2 separate regions of the Homo sapiens genome follow, and region 2 is linked to region 1. Evidence: fine-mapped expression QTL. A gene starts in region 1. The other region holds a variant in brackets. All regions are shown on one strand. Distances are between the middles of the regions.

Region 1 (8,643 bases):
AAACACAATAATACATAGACATGAACTACCCTATCCTTTTCCTCCCTCACCTTCCCCCAAGTCTCCGAGTTTTCTTTGGGCTCTTCCCATAACCCCCTTCCTTTTCTCCAGTCCTTTCGGCACCTACTTGATGTGTTCTGTGCGTCCAGACCCCTCGATGGTCTTGGCTCCCCATCGTTGCTCCTTTTCAGAGATGTCATTCTGCAAACGACAGCACGCAGTAATACATGACGGCAAGAAATGTGCCACATTGAGAAGGGCCACCCAACTGACACATGCCCTCCATGTCCCCTGTGTCCACTGCCTTCTTCAGTCTGGGTCTTTATTCACATCCCCTCTATATTTATCCCATCCTGACCCCATGTAAGAATTAAACTGGTGAGGCCAGGCGTGGTGGCTTATGCCTGTAATCCTAGCATTTTAGGAGGCCGAGGCGGGTGGATCTCTTTAGGTCAGGAGCTCAAGACTAGCTTGGCCAACATGGTGAAACCCCATCTCTACCAAAAAAATACAAAAATTAGCCAGGTGTGGTGGCATGCACCTGTAGTCCCAACTGCAGGGACTACTTGGGAGGCTGAGGTAGGAGAATCGCTTGAACCTGGGAGGCAGAGGTTGCAGTGAGCTGAGATTGCACCACCGTACTCCAGCCTGGGTGACAGAGTGAGACTCTGTCTCAAAAAACAAACAAGAAAACACAAAGAATTAAACTAGTGAGCTCTGAAACCTCCGTTCCTCCTCTGCCTACTTCATGCCTACCCCATCTGGTCTCCTACAGCTTTTTAATCCCCCAATTACACATGCCCAGCTTGAATCCTGGATCATGGGCCAGGGGAGACCCAGGTTCACCTGCTTCTCACCTTCAGTGTAGCCTGCCATGGCCTGTCAATCACACTGTCAAACTCACCCACACCTGTCTCTTTTCATCCCTGATACCAGGTATCGTGCATGCCCCACAGGTGACAGCCAATTGTCCTACCAATTAGTCCCAGTATGAGGGCTGTCTCAGTCCTAGAAGGCCCTTTTCCAAGCATCCTCAAAGATCACAGAGTGGCCCAGATGCCCTCCTCACCCCACCCTCTGCACTGTCCAAGCAAAGCTACTTCCAAACTCACCACAAAGTCAGGATCTGTGTCCCAATCATCACCCTGGGTCTCCACGGAAACAGACACATCATGGCCCACTACAGACTTCCACATCTGAGAGTGACCGGAGATGGGAATAATTAGGGACAAAAAAGGATCAAGAGGAGGGAAAATAGGAATGCTGAAGTCAAAATATAGCAGCCCAATATTTCCTGCCATTTTTTTTTTCTTAGAAGAAAATAGAAAATGAAGCAAAGCAAATGGGAGTTGTAGGAAGGCTTTTCTGCTCAGTTACAAGATGAGAGATGGGACTTTAATCAAGACGAATTGATGTGGGCTGGGCCCACCTGGGGCTAGAGAGAAGTCATCATGGGTGTGGGTAACACTAGGTAACCCACGAGTCAAAATTGCTGGAATTGTTCACTTGTGTCCCGAGGCCAGCCAGGCAGTGGCTGGAGGTGGTTGGCAATGAGCGGTGCTATAATATCCCTAGAATTATGGCCTTATTTCACTCAGGTTTCTATATATGATTCCTTTGTTGCTGTTGAAATACAAATTGGTTCTGCTTCTCACAAAGTGAACATCTACATCCCTCTTTACAACCTGCTGAACTACACTGAGAATTTTTCCAGCCTCTGGTCCAAGTGCTGTCCCACCTCCACCCTGAGTCTGGTCACCTCACAGCTGTGTAAGGTCAGCAGCGACAGTCGGCTGAAATTTCCACATGGAACAATGCATTGGGAGAGCATTATTTGCTGGGAATAAGTCAGTTATTACTCAATTTTTTAAAAATGGTTCAATTAATTGCTAAAGTCAAAAAATAGCATGTTTTCAAGTTGACAATTTACCGTAGAAAAGAAAAAAGAATAATATGTAATAAATCTGATTTTGAACATTAAGAGGTACTCAGTTTTTATCAACTAAATAAATGTTGCAGAAATATTTAGAGAACCCTAGCTTGGAAGGGTGCCAAACTTATTCTGCTGGGGCATTCCCAGTGTTCTAGACGGCCTTCCGGACTGTGCAGAAGGAAGAGCGGCACAGTTGCTCTGCATCTGTGGATTTGGTGTGAAGAAGTAACAACAGACAATGCTCATCTGCTGTGGTCACCACTGAGACTTCTTGACCCTGGCAGCACTTGCTAGCTGGCAATCCTTCCCTCCTCAGACACCTCATCCCATTGGAGACCTTCCCCATGCTCTCCATCGTCTCCAAAGAGTCCCTTTACAACCACTCCTCGGGTTCTCCTGTCTCCACCTAGGCCTTCAGATTCTCCAGTTTTCTATTTCCACTTGAAAGCTCCATCTTCTCCATTGAGCAACCTCTTAAAAACCAGCCCAGGGGAAGTCTGGGTAAATCAGTTAAAGAGATGCTAAGGGGACACCGGAGAGATATTGACTGAGTCAGCCGGGAGTCATGGCTGAAAGCAGCTTGGCTTTCCCTGATGCGGTTGGAGACAGCAAAACATCCTTACTACCTGCATCCTTACTACCCCTCTGCTTCTCATCCCCTGGCTCCTGGGCTGCTGTGCAACAACAAAAGGACTGTCACACAGAAAACTGGAATGGAGAAGTTTCTGAAATAGTCATGAGCAATAAGGAAGCAATGAGGACTGATGGTCCCATCCTCCTTCCTGTGGCTCCTCTGAGGCCTCAGCCTGACTCTCCCATTCACCCATTTTTGAAATAAAGAGTTTCTGAAATAGAGACAATTTATCTAATATCCTTGACCTATTGACCAGAAACCAGAAAGGTAAGAAGTGCTATCTAGAGGTGAGAACCAGAGAGTAATCTGGTGAGGCCTTGTTGCGATGCTGACCTCCTGCATCAAAGTACACAGACTGGGAGTCAGAAGCCCTGGCTGTCACCCCAGCTCTGTGACTAAGCCTCTGAGGGACCATCACAAGGGCATCAACAGAGTAGGTACTCATTTGCCAGGTATCAGACCAGGCGATTAAGAAATACTAACTTTAATAATTTGGCAAATCAGCAATTATCTCTGATTTTCCCAGTGGAAAATAATGAAGGGGTTAACGTAGCTCATCTGTGGTCTCCTTGATTTCTGACATTCTGAGATTCTGTGATCTACGAACACAGAAACTAGCCCCAGCAGAACAATCATGCCTTCTCTTGGGCTCCATCAGCACTTGGTACTCAGTGCTAGTGTACATCAGTGACTACTTCCTGATCTGTTACATTTCCTGTGTGGGTTTGTTTCCCTGAGACCATATGCTCTTCAAGGGCAGACACTGTTTTCGTCTCCTGTGGTCCTCCTCCCAGCTCAGTACCTAGGGGAGACAGGCCTTAGAGTGGGTTGTAGATTGTCAGCAGAAACCAGGCAACACTTTGCTTGATGTTGGTGCTAGATGGCTCCTGAAACACTTGCCTTGGGTTTAAGCCCCTCCCTTTTGTTTCTATCTCCAGATGCTGATTTGCTACAACCACTCACAACCAGGCCTTCTGGCCATAAAAGGATAAAAGCCTACTAGTGGTGACCTTGCCCATCACCAAGGACTAAGAGCCAGGTAGGTTCCTCCTCAACTCTTACTCTGTGTTTCCCAACTGTCCCATGGCTCAGAGTACCCACCTCCACCTGTGCAAGCCTCTGTTCTAAGCGCCCGGCTCCTCGCGTCCACACCGACTCCCTCTCTGGCTGCTGCCACTTCGGAGTGAGAAACTGAGCTGCTGCTTCAGTTCCGTATTCAGGTTTTCGTCATTTCCTGCCACCCCATCCTCACAGCTACTTCCTGAAATTTGAGTCAGTTCCTTCTGCTTTAGACACTTAAATTTTAAAAGGATTAAATGTTTCTGTGCCTGGTCTTTTGCAAGGTTTTGACAATGGGGGTCATAGAGCAGTCATAGAAAATGCTGCTTTGACTCTGAGTTTGTAATCCAGTGAGAGAAACAAACATTCAACCAGAAAACACATTAGAGAATGCTGTAGAACAGCATTGTGTCCTAAATAGGGTGGCAGTTACATTTGAGACAGTAAAGGAATTCAGAGCATTTGGTATTGGGTGTATTCATCAAGAAAGGCTTTATGGGAAAAGTGATTTATATGTGGGTTTTGAAGCATAAGACTTAAAAAGAAACTCACCCCTATATTACCCACAGCACTTAAAAGTGGAGTTTTCATATAGATGTTCAAATAAACGTCGACCAATTGAATGCCAGAAGAGAATAACTCATGAGGGAAAAGGCAAGACATGGAAGGAGAGTTTCCTAGCTTGTTTGGGGCACTGTGGAGTCTGAGCTAACAAACTAAAGATTTGGCTCTAGAGCGTAGGAAGAATTCTGAAAGAACCAGGTGCTGGTCAGCTGATGGAAGAAGGTCTTTGTGGTATCCTGTTTTACTGCGTGTCAAGACTTGCTGCCCCTCCCTTCCCTCTTGAAGTCAGACTTACTCAGGTGACTTGTTTTGGCCAGTGACAGATACCACTTTCTGGCGGAGGCCGTAAGACCACTGCAAGCTTTGCCATGCTTTCACCACTGCCCAAGGCAACCTGCAATTCTCCATATTGGCTCCTCCAGCAGACTGGGTCCCTGAGTGAGAAAGAACACAAGTGGAGCCCCATCCACCATGTGGGGGAATTGGAGTCTTTCACTAAAAAATAGTCCTTTGTTTTGGCTACTGAGAATTTGAGGGTGTCTGTTATTGTATCTGACCTAGCCTTTCCTAATCTTGATTGTGGACTTCTTGATTTGTTCACAACGGTGCATCCTCCAAGGAGTTTAAGCAGGACTGGATGAAACTGGCCCATGATACAGGCACTTTTCTGCATTAGGAATATGAAGCCTCTGTCACTTCCAAATCTAAGGATTCTATGCCTGGGGGAGCTTTATTTATTCCTTCTACTTTATTACCTATTTATCATGGTGGTACCAAAGTTATGATAAGGAAGAGTACGTTTGTACAAGAGAAAAATCACTTGGAATCCTCATGTAGTGTCAAAATACGATTTAGACTAGATGATGTGACACACCATCCAGGTACATAGTTCTCTAGAGAAAATATAGAAATTAATCAGAGATGACACCAAGAAGTCCCATCTTTCCTTAGCAAATGTCACAAGTTCATTACTGATGAGGTAGTGAGGTGTATCACACAGAAAAAGAATGGGCCTTGAAGCCAGACAGACTTGGTTCAATTAAACCACTTATTGTACTTTGAGAAAGTGAGCTATCTTCTCTCAAGCAGCAACTTAATATAAAAATCCATAATAGCTGGGCACGGTGGCTCACACCTCTAATCCCAGCACTTTGGGAGGCTGAGGCGGGTGGATCACAAGGTCAGGAGTTTGAGACCAGACTGGCCAACACAGTGAAACTCCATCTCTACTAAAAGTGCAAAGATTAGCCGGGCATGGTGGCAGGTGCCTGTAATCCCAGCTATTTGGGAGACTGAGGCAGGAGAATCGCTTGAAACTGGAAGGCGGAAGGTGCAGTGAGTTGAGATTGTGCCACTGCACTCCAGCCTGAGCGAAAGAGTGAAACTCGGTCTCAAAAAAAACCCAACAAAACAAAACAAAACATAATAATGCCTATCTAACCTGCTACATGCTATTAAGCTTCTCTTCTCCCATTCCCACCCAGAGGGATCCCTAGGGGCCTAATGTTTTCACTATGTGCCAGACAAGAGTTCTCCCAGGACCATGCATGGACCTGCATCAATTTCATGCCCTAAGGCCCAGCTTATTTGGTTCAGTATTAGGATAGAATTTCCTCACTGCATTCATCACCTGGGGTCTAGCAGCTAAGGCTGGAAAAATGCATGCAGCTGTCACTGATATTGGCCAGTGAGAAGAAAGCCTGAATATGTAGAGCTTTCTACCCCTATAACCATTCCTGGCTACCTCCTTTCCCTACTTCCCTTACCCACCTTCCACCCCCCAGCATGCAAACACAGGTACCGAAACACCTGTGCACATATCCATTCACTCACACGTACACACACATACACACAAACTCTTCATTCTGAAAATAATTTTATTATTTTACAGTTGTTCAGGAAACTTCCCAGGATGTTGTAACCAAGATTTAATCACCACAGTAGATTTAGAGCAGATCAGTCAGCCCACTTGTCTTCTCTCTTCTTTAGGGAGAGGCTAGGCAGTGAACACATCACGTATGCAATGAGAAAATAACCAACTGGTAGGATGGGGGAGGGGAGGGGAGGCAGGGAATAGGCACAAATGGAATTCTATCCTGGCTGTCCTTCTCAGGTCTATCTATATTTAATTTTGTCTTCTCTATATTCTCCTTCCATTGCCACAGAGGGCAGAGACAATGGGGCTGAGAAACTGTAATAACTGTCACTAACAGCAAAGTAGCTTAGTACTTCAAGAGGTCAGGAGTTGCAGTGTGGTGTTAGACCAGTCAGACTCCTGGCTGAGAGTCAATGCCTAATATTGGCTCCCAGTGGCCCCTGAGCACTGTCTCAGGGTCCACATTCCAGGAATATTCAGATATTCCTGGAATGACAAGAATTGGAACCCTGCTGTCCATAGACACTTCTCCCTGCCCTTTGGTGAAAGGAAAGACTTGGGCCACTTAATACCTTAGTATACATGTGATCAAGGGCAAAAGCAAAGGGATTCTATCCTTATAGTCTAAGACCTGAAATTCTCCCTCCAATTATATCTGAAATTGGCAGGGAAGAAGATGCTGTCCTCCCATGTGATCTAACAGCTAAAACCCCTAGGGAGTTCCTTCAGCTTTCACCACCCTATTCTGCAAGAGACCTAAATCAGATGTCCTATGAGGTGACATGTTCATTTCCCTGAACTCTGTTTATGGCAGAGCCACCTTCCCCCTGAAACAGGAGAAAATACAGGCAAACAAGGCAAAGAAAGTTATCAATCAAAATGATACTGAACTTCAGATTATTAGGTTTATTGAAACCATCCTCTTGGCTTGGCTGAAAGACATTCCTCAGTATCTTTTACAGGACCACAAAAGATCAGGGTCCTGCAAAATCTCAACAAATATTAGGCTCAACAAACCAAATGTGATTCTCAGATTAAGCAGAAGCGTTCAGGCTCAGGGCAGTAGAAGAAAGCAGACTCGCCAGTCCCTGCAGCTCCAACCTGTCCTCGTATCCACCTCTGTTTTTGCAGGCACTTTCCGTGAAGAGTTGGAGAGAAGACCTGTAAATGGGAAGACTGTTCCACTGGAATTGATGTTCTGATGTTAGAGGTGAGAGAATTCCAAGTTTTGAGGGGAGTGGTCCAAAGAGTAACAACTAAGTCTATAGATGGCCCGTAAAACACAGAATGAGCAGGACATGAATCATTAGAAAGTAGATGGCTGCTAGAAGTGGCACTCGGGTCCGTGAATGACAGAGTGAACGCAGGACTCGCTTCCATCCAACGCCACTCCGGGTCTGAAAGAAAAATGTGAAAGTCAGAGAGTTTTCACCCTATAGGGCTATGTTGCTTTCCCTCCTACTAGTCTTGCACTTAAGCAAAGCTGACCCAACCACTGTAGAAAGGGGTATTCTGAGAGGAAAGTTGCCTCAGAGTCAACAACTTGGCAAATTCCACCAGGTTCTAATCTTCCACGCCCTTCCAGCCTTAGACTCATTCGCTGCTCAGTGGCTGGACTTCCACATTCCTTCTCCTCAGCTCCTTGCCCCCAGTATAGCCAGCCCTGTCAGATAATAAAACACCCTCTCTTTATCCTTCTTCCTCTTACCCTTCGACAACTGTTGCTTGTAAGATCTATTAACAGTGCCTGCTCCTGAGTGCCACAGGAGCCAATGATAGGAGTCCGGGAAGAGTCCCATTCACTGTGCTCTAACCTGAGTTGAGAAAAAAAAGAGGCATAGCATTGGTTCATAGCATGAGAGGCTGATCAGGCCCAGTCTTCCCAGTCATCCTGCCACACAATGCAGCACAGGAGGAGACTTGCAGCAAAAGCTGCTCCCATAAACCCAAACCCATGCAAGGGGGGTACCAGCAGATACGTTTCCTTCAGCAGCAGCAAAATGTGACAATAACTATCAGGAATTGACTGCCTACTCACTATGTATCAGGCTCTAGGCTGGGTGCTTTACATACATTTAATCCTCAGGTTCTGAGGTTGGTCTTATTATCTTCAAAGTGCTAAGGCTTACAGAGGTTAAATTACTTGCCCATGGCGGCACAGCCAGTAAGCGGCAGAGCCAGAATTCAATACCCAACTTTGTCTTTCAAGCCTCACGTTCTTTTTTCCACCACACCACACCTGACTTGGAGAAACTCATTACATTTTTTTCTTTTATTAAAGGCTAATAGGCAAAAGCATCCAAAGAAGATTTCTGTGGGGTTTTAAAAATTAAATTGAACTAAAAAAAATTAAATTGAATTGGCAGTCTCCACTGCCTTCTGGCTCAGTTTTTGCTGATTTGCTTATTTAATACTGGAACTTCTCCATTTAATGAAGAAGCTGCCATTACTCACTCAATGGTTATGTCAAACAAACAAAGGAGCTGCATGTAACACAGCACGTTTGATCAAGCATTTGCCTATAGGGATGAACTTTTTCAATAGGGAAGAGAGGATGAAACTCTTGCCTCTACTCTT
Region 2 (8,643 bases), 140 kb after region 1:
TTAATCATATGATTTTTCTTTTTCCTTTTCTCAGAGAATTCCAGGTTGAAATCTTTAAGATATTCCTCCCTCCTGAGAATTCTTACGTGCTCAATTGTGGTATCTGATAAAAAAAAAAAAATCTGTCTAGACAATCTCTTTAATAAAAAAAAAAAAAAAGGAGTGGGATGGAATCACTGTGGTAAATCAAAAAGTAGAGATAAATTTTTTTTATTTGAACAAAAATACTTAAATGGAGACATTTTAAAGATAAATTACTACAGACACATATTCAGTAAATGCTTGCCCTGTGGAAGCACTTATGCAGATTATTATTAGTCATTATTAGTTGAAAAAGATTATTAAATATAAACATATGGTAACATATATAATTTGGGGCAAATCAATAGGTTCCTGGGAAAACATTATAGGTGAAGTGCTACAACACTAGGATAGTACATTTTCATGCCAAAATAATACATAGTAGTAGTGAAAGGTACAAAGTAAGTACTGTTTCCAGGGTACACTGAAATGATGTATTATAATGTGTGTATTCAAAATAAATACATAAGGTAAAATTGCCTTGTAGTGTATAATTGGGGAAACCACTATATGGATCTTTTAATGCCTTATACTCTCTTCAACACCCAAGTTCTCAGCAGTATTAATAATTGTAAAATATCTTCAGGAATCTGAATAAGTTCTGCTATTGAGATATAAGTCAAAGAAAGGGAGAAGGATTCAGGTAAAATTCCTTTATAACGACTCTGTTGGACATTCACATTTCTTTAGGAATTGAATTACAGAATTGAAAAATGTCTATCTGGCACAATATCAACTAAAGAGCTCTATTACTGGTACTTTCCTTCTCTATTCCTACAATACCCTCAGTAATGACTAATTCAAGGTACATTATTACAATGTCTTCAAAATCATCAAGAATGATAAAGACCTTTCTAGTTGTTTAGGTATTAAATGCATCATATTATATTCTAACCTTTAAAAATTCCCATACAGTATAACCCTATGTTAATAAGTATATTTAATGAACTAGAATCCCATTTCCTGACCACGCTGAATAAGAAAAATAGATTATAATACATACATGGCTCTGGTCAGCAAAGAAATAAAACAAAGATAACATATAACTTTGCTTGGCAATTAAACAATATATATACTACCTTTGTGATCTTGGGCAAATTACCATGTCTCTGTTTCTATATCTATAAAATAAGGATAAGAATATCTATCCCATAGGATTGTTGTAAAGATTAAACATTTTAATGCATATAAAGTATATGGAATGTGCCTGACACACAGTAAATGCTCAATTAAATGAAAGCTATTATATGAGAATGTATATACGCTTACTCCTTTTATCCTCAAAATTTCTGACTTTTAATTCACATATGTATTTGATTTTGGAGGTAAGGCAATTTTTTTTGTTTGTTTTTGAGGAAAGGCAGTGTTAAGTAATTATTGATAGTTCAAAATACCATAAGGGCCACTGGCCTCTCAAGCACAGCTCCATTTTCTCCACTAAAGCTGGTCTTGATAAGGTCACTGATCTTTTTGGTCATTATTTTACTATACTATATGGTATATTCAACACACAAAACCTTTTTGTCAGAGAGGGAGTAAATATTTATGGCAACCTGATCAGAAAAGTATCTTCCACATGCTATCTGTAGTGACATGAAGATAGCTTGATTATATAAAGACTTTTTTTTTTCTGAATTGGTATCTGTTGTGAGTTTTATCTACATAGGTCAGTTATCAACTCTTTAAAATATAAGAATTTTGTTTTTCATAAACCATCAATAAAAATTTTCTTTTTGAGAATCCCAAGAAAAGAAAGAATGAATGTACTACCTTTGTAGCAGGTACTTTGTCTCAGTAAAATCAAAATTTCCTGATGGGATTCAGCCATCAACAGTAGGAGTTTTGTAGCAGTACTTCTTATAACTGGACTAGGAGTTGAAAAAAGCTTGAAAATAACTTCATCTAAAATTGAATACAGGGCTTTTCTTCCTATTCTGAGTAAATCACCACTAATAGAACAAAATAAAAAAAAAAGTACCATTACTAATTGATGTACAGGTATCACAACAAATCTAAAATATAAGATTCAGTAACTTGATGCCGGACTGTGTCCTGATCCAAGAATATAACCACTTTTTCAAATATATGTTGGTTCCAAGAAGATATCATATTCAGTCACTTAATATTTATTGAATTCCTACTGTGTGCAAGGTGCCATGTGTGCTAGGTACAATAGAGAATACAAAGTAGCCAAAGGCCTTCTCCTTAGAGAAGCCTGCAATCAAATCAAGGATGAAATATAAATGTGCAAAATACTAAACAATAAATAATTTAAAAGCTTCAAGGCAATGATAAAAGTGAAATCAAGACAGGTACACAGTTAATTTTTAAATGATGTACAAAGACAAAAATGCCATAGGAATTCTATCATGTGCTTAATATAGGAGAAACTTAAAATCTTTCCTTGGTATTTCCTTCATTATACTAACAACCCATCTTGTATTACTGATGTTGTGAAAAATTATCTAAAACTTAGAAATAGTCAAAAGGAAAGGGTTAGTGAGTATCCTTTTATTTACCCCCTTAAGGAGTTATGTGATTTTCTAGGCGTATGTACCTCTGTTTAATTTTCTACTCACTATTAAAATACTTTACAATTCTGTAAAAATAGAGGTTGGCTGGTAGAAAACAATGCTAAAGATTCTTATCTAAGAGCAATGTAAACAGACTCTTATTCAAAGCAATACAAATGATTTCTGTCCAGTAGAAAAGGTAATTCTAGAAGCTACATTGCTTTATAAGTCATATTTTCCTATTAGCAAATTTTAAAAATCTATCAGCAAATTTACTTCTACATTTCTTCGACAAACCAACTCCATAAATCTATTTTCCTCAAATTCTCCTTTGACCCTGTATAAATATCTTATTTGTTCCCTCATTAATGAGTTGCATAAAATTTTGAGCAGTCAAATTTTATATTTGTATAAGACTCATGTTTGAGCTTTTTGAAAATTGTACTTTAGTAGTTACTAAAATAATTTTGTTAAGAGAAAAGAGATCAGCAACATACCTTAAATGTAAAAATCTCTGAGTTGAAAGACTTTATAAAGTTATCCAATCAAAATATGTGAGAATCTTTGTGACATCTACTTCTGTGCCACTGTGTCTCTTACATGCTATTCCCTATGCCTAGGATGCTCACCCTGTCCCATCAGTCAATGTCATCACACTATTCAAAACTCAGATTAAAAAATATGCTCATCTCAGAAAGCCTTCTACAGATATCCCTATCCCAATCTTATCACATCTTTACTCCATATCCCACCAAGAGTTTGTGCTATAATGTAATACAGTAGTTTAAATGCTTTTAGATGCTCTTCAACCTCCTAATCTTAAAGACATCCTCTCTATACCACTACCATCTTATCTCTCTGCTTCTCTTCTAATCCAATTTCTGTTGCCACTATCTCACATCTCATTTCTCAAACCACTGCATCTAGTTTTCATTTTTTACTATTTCACTATACTATCCTTGATAAGTTCATCAGTATAACTTCCCAAATGTCAAGTCACATATATACCATAAGTGATTCTTTTCCTAGACTTGTTTGTATCTGATACTTTCTACTTACTCAGCTTCTGTGATACAAAGTTCTGGTCTCCCCTCTACCTTCCACCCATACTTTTCTGACCATTCTTTTTCATTTGTCTTTGTGGGCTCCACTTCCCCAGTATAACCCTAAAAGGTTATTCCCCAAGACTCCATTTTCAAGCCATTTATTTTCTCATTGTATTCACACTTCCTACTAATCTCACTTTCTGTCATGTTTTTCTCTACCATGTATAAGCTGATTTGTAAATCTGTAACTCTAGTCCCAATCTCTTCCAGAAGTTAGTTTACCTATTCACCTGATGGACATTTGAGTTTTAGCTAGTCCTTGTTTTTCACAAATAAAGCTCAATGAACATTTGTGTATAAGTCTTTATATAGATACTTACTTTTACTGCATGTTGAACTACCTATACTCAACATAACCAACATTGAATTAATCATCTGTCTCACAAAACCAACTTCTTATATATTCCACATACCACAGTCTAATCACCCAATACAGAAAACTTGGTATCATATCTGACTGCACCATTTATTTTATCTACCCCATATCAAAACATTCACCAAGTCATCATAATTTTTGTTTTAAACAGCTTTTTAAAAATATAATTGATATACAACAAACTGCATATATGTAAAGCATATAATTTCATCAGTTTGACATGTTTCACCAACATAAAACAAGAAAATGAATATATCTATCACCCCTAAAAGCTTCCTTGTATTTCATTGTAGTTCCTCCCTTGTTGCCTTCCCTATCATTCTATGCCCAGGAAACCACCGATCTGCTTTCTGAGAAAGTTCCCTTGTATTACTACTTTGCTGCAAGGC[C/CTT]TTTTTTTTTTTTTTTTTTTTTAATTAAAATCAGGGCTAGATAATGGATTTTGTCAAAAGCTTTTTCTGTATCTACTGATATGATGGTATGTTTTTTCCATTTTTAGCTTGTTAACATAAGTTACAATGACTGACTTCAGAATATTAAACCAGCCCTGAATGCCGGGATAAACCAGAATTATTCATGACGTATTAACTTTTTAATATATTGTTGAATTTGACTTATAAAATTTTGTTCAGAACATTTCTATCTATGTTTATGAATATACTGATGAGTAGTTTTCTTTTCTTATAATGTCTTTGTTTGGTTTTGGTATCAGGATAATGCTGACCTTATAGAATGAGTTGTAAGTGTTTCCTCCTTTTCGATTTTCTAGAAAAGTTTGCTTAAGATTATTATTTCTTCCTGAAGTGCTTAATAGAATTCACAGTGAAAAAGCCATCCAGACCTGGAGTTCTCTTTGTGGGAAGGTTTTTAGCTACAAATTCAATTTTTTTTTATAGCTATCTAGAGTATATTTGGGTTCTCTATTGCTCCTTGAGTAAATTTTGGTAGTTTGCGTCTTTCAATAAATTTGTCCATTTGATCTAAGTTGTTAAATTTATAAGCATAAAGTTGTTTATATTATTCCCTTGTGATATTTTTAGTATTTGTAGACTCTGTTACGATGTTACCTCTCTAATTCCTGAGATTGGTCATTTGTATTATGTCTTTTCCTTTCCATATTAATCTTGCTACAGGTTTCTTCTCAAAGAGCCAGTTTATGGTTTGTTTTCTCAAAAAACTTCAATCTTCCCAAAGATCCAGTTTATGGTTTATTTCTCTATCACGTTTGCTTAGAATTTTATTGATTTCTGCTCAACCTTTATCATTTTCTTTCTTCTGCTTAGAGTTTAATTCCCCCTTCTTTTCCTAGTTTCTTAAAGGGGAAAGCCGAGGTCAATGATTTGAGATTTTTCTTCTTTTCTAATATATAGGCATTAGTGATATAAATTTCCCCTAAGTATCATTCTGCTTTAATTAAGAATTTCCCCAGAAATTCTCATGTTGTTTTTATTTCCATTCATTTAAAAATAATTTCTAATTTCACTTTTGATTTCTCCTTTGTCTTGTGAGTTATTTAGATGAATGTTATTATTTCCCACATATTTGGGGACTTTTCAGAGATCTTCTTGGCATCAATTTCCAACTTAATTCCATCGAGGCCAGAGAACATACTTTGTATAACTGAAATCCTTTTACGTTGCTTTTTTCTTTTTTTTGAGACAGGGTCTTGCTCTGTTGCCTAGGCTGGAGTGTAGTGATGTGATCTCAACTCACCGTAACCTCTGCTTCCTGGGCTCAAGAGATTCTCCCACCTCAGCATCCCAAGTAGCTGGGACTAGAGGCACCTGCCACCATGCCCAGCTAATTTTTTGTACTTTTTGTAGAGATGGGGTTTTGCCATGCTGCCCAGGCTGGTCTGGATCTCCTGGACTTAAGTGATCTGCTCACCTCAGCAAAGTGCTGAGATTACAGGTGTGAGCCACCGTGCCCGGCCCCTTTTGTGTTTCTTGAGACTTTATTTATGGCTCGGAATATGCACCCTTCTTTGTAAATGTTCCATCTGCATTTGAAAAGAACATGTATTCTGCTACTGTTTGGTAGAATATTTGTAAAATGTCAATCAGGTCAGATTGGTTGATATTATTGTTCAAATCTGTGGTCATACTAATTTTTTTGTCTACTTATTCTATTAAATATCAAAAGAGGTATATTAACATCTTTTGCTTTAATTGAGGATTTCTCCTTGTAGTTCTTGTCAATTTTTGCTTGTGTATTTTAAAACTCTATTAGGTCAATAAACACATCCTTTTGATGAACTGACTTTTTTTATGATTATGAAATAACCTTCTTTAGCACTAGAAATATTCTTTGTTCTGTAACTTACTTTATCTGATACTAATACAGGTACTTCAACTTTCTGTGGTATAAGCACGGTATATCTTGTTCCACCCCATTACTTTTAACCTACTTGTGTCTTTATATCTAAGGTGCATTTCTGGTAGACAGCATATAGTAGGCTTGTACTTTTTAAATCCAATCTGTCAATCTGTCTTTTAACTTTAGTTTTTCCACATTTACATCTAAGATAGATAGGTTTAAATCTACCACTTGGTTTTGTTTCTCCTTTGTTCTTCTTTTTTTTTTACTTCCTTCTTCTGGATTGCGTATTTTTTAATGATTAATTTTTATTGCCTTTGTTGGCTTATCAGCTGTAAATTCTTTGTTTTGCTATTTTCTTCACTGCTTTGAGGTTCAAAGTATACATTTCAATTTCTCACAGTCTTATCACTTATCACAGTGATATTATACCACTTCATGTATAGTATAAGAGTCTTACATCAGTATACTTCCATTTATCTCCTCCCAGCCTTAATGCCCTTTTGGAATACATTCTACTTATACATATGTTCCTCAAATACAGCATTATTTTTGTGTAGGCAAACATATTATAGATATATTAAAATAATATAAGAAAAACTATCTTATATGTTTATGTAATCACCATTTCCGATACTCTATTTCTTTGTGTAGATGAATTTCCCTTCTGATGGAAGGACTTCCTTGAATATTTTTTGTAGTGTTGGTCTGCTGGTGATTTCTGAAGAAGTATTTCATCTTTGCTTTTGAATATATTTCTGCTGAGCATGTAATTCTAATTTGACAGTTTTCTTTTTCAGTATTCAACTGTCTTTTTACTTGTGTTGTTTCTGATAAGAAAGTTGCTGTCATCCTTATCTCTATTTCTCTATATAATGTTTTTTCATCTCTGGTTGCTTTTAAGATTTTTCTCTTTATCACTGGTTTGAGCATTTTGATTACGATGTGCCTCAATGTGGAATTTTCTTCATATTTATTGCCCTCAGGGTTTGACGACCTTTTTGCATCTGCATGTTTATAGTTTTCATCAAATTTGGAAAATGTTAAGTCATTACTTCTTCACACATTTTTTTGTGACCCTACTGCCTGCTTTACGTACTCTGATTACACTTATGTAAGGTTGCTCAAGTTGTCCCACAGTTCACTGATATGCTTTTCTTTCCTCTTGTTTCTTCTTTGTTTCATTTTGGATAGTTTCTACTGATACGCCTTAAAGTTCACTAATCTGCAATGTTAATCTGCTGTTAATCCCATCCAGTGTATTTTTCATCTCAGATATTGTAGATTTCATGTCTAGAAATTCACTTTGAGTCTTATATGTCTGTATTCAACTTTTTAAATATATGGAGTATGGTTATAATAACTAGTGTCCTTGTCTGTTAATTCCAACATATGTACCAGTCTTGATTAATTCTTCTCATTTTAGATCCTGTTTTCTTGTTTATTTGCATGCCCAGTACTTCAGTACCAGTAAAATCAAATCACCCGTTGAATCGTAGTATGTTTTGTAGCATAGTCATGACTGTATAATCTATCATGTATCAGTACTGCAAGATACATGCAGTACTGCAAGTAGTTATCAGTAACTGCAAGAAATAGTCATTTTACAGTAATAAAGAAATAGAAAAAAAGAGTCATCAAAGCAAATATTCTATGATGGCACAAGTGGGATTTTTCTCATCCTTTTTAAAGCCAAATCGAAGGATAGCCATTTCTAGTGAACTTCCTACCTTTGTATAACCTACAATAAAATTAATTTTAAAATACAGCCAGGTTCAATAACCACATGCAGTTAAGTTACTTGGAAACAGTTTGACCCTTTTGGGTCTTGCTTTTATGATCTGGAATAGTGCTCATTCTAATGCTAATTATTCCTCACTACTGGAGTAAAACCTTCCTGAACACTCTACCCAATGACGCACTGTTTATGAGGCTTTCCAGTTTGGCTGTTGGAAACAGGCACTATTTCTGGCCCTGTGTGAGCTCCTTGCACTGTTCCTTTTAATCCTTTTGGATTATTGTTTTCCCTGGCATTGGGTATTCCTTACAATGTGCAGATCAGTACTCTACTTAATACTTGAAGGATACCCTCTGCAGATCTCTGGGGTTCTCTACATGTATAGCTCTCTTCTCTAGTATTCTGACTTGTGAACTCTAGTTATCTTGTTCTCTCCAGACTCTGAGCTCTATCACTTCAACTCAAGCTGGCTGGGATGCCTCTCCCTATACTTCAACCTGGAAACTCTCTCAATAC

Alleles and levels. Alleles are on the strand shown, and positions count from the first base shown. SD is a standard deviation of normalised expression in the study named.
In carriers of allele CTT in region 2, the expression in lymphoblastoid cells of the gene that starts at base 3,752 in region 1 tends to be higher than with C alone (small effect, 0.28 SD a copy in TwinsUK).

Evidence for each region.
Region 2: its variant is fine-mapped to the expression of HCLS1 in lymphoblastoid cells (TwinsUK, PIP 0.95).

What each region holds. Positions count from the first base shown.
Region 1 is chr3:121,657,152-121,665,794 of GRCh38, forward strand. HCLS1 (hematopoietic cell-specific Lyn substrate 1) reads right to left here and starts at 3,752. Exons shown (of 14, transcript NM_005335.6): 1 at 3,669-3,752; 2 at 1,113-1,196; 3 at 128-201. The coding sequence starts at 1,196. It overlaps GOLGB1 (golgin B1), which reads right to left. Exons shown (of 22, transcript NM_001366282.2): 21 at 7,775-7,880; 22 at 6,050-7,463. The coding sequence ends at 7,329. RefSeq lists enhancers at 3,595-3,784, 3,975-4,024.
Region 2 is chr3:121,797,345-121,805,987 of GRCh38, forward strand. It overlaps IQCB1 (IQ motif containing B1), which reads right to left. Exons shown (of 15, transcript NM_001023570.4): 8 at 1,852-2,030. Among named protein-coding and RNA genes, the nearest start is that of IQCB1, 33 kb to the right of the region's middle. The variant C/CTT (reference allele first, on the strand shown) is at 4,466.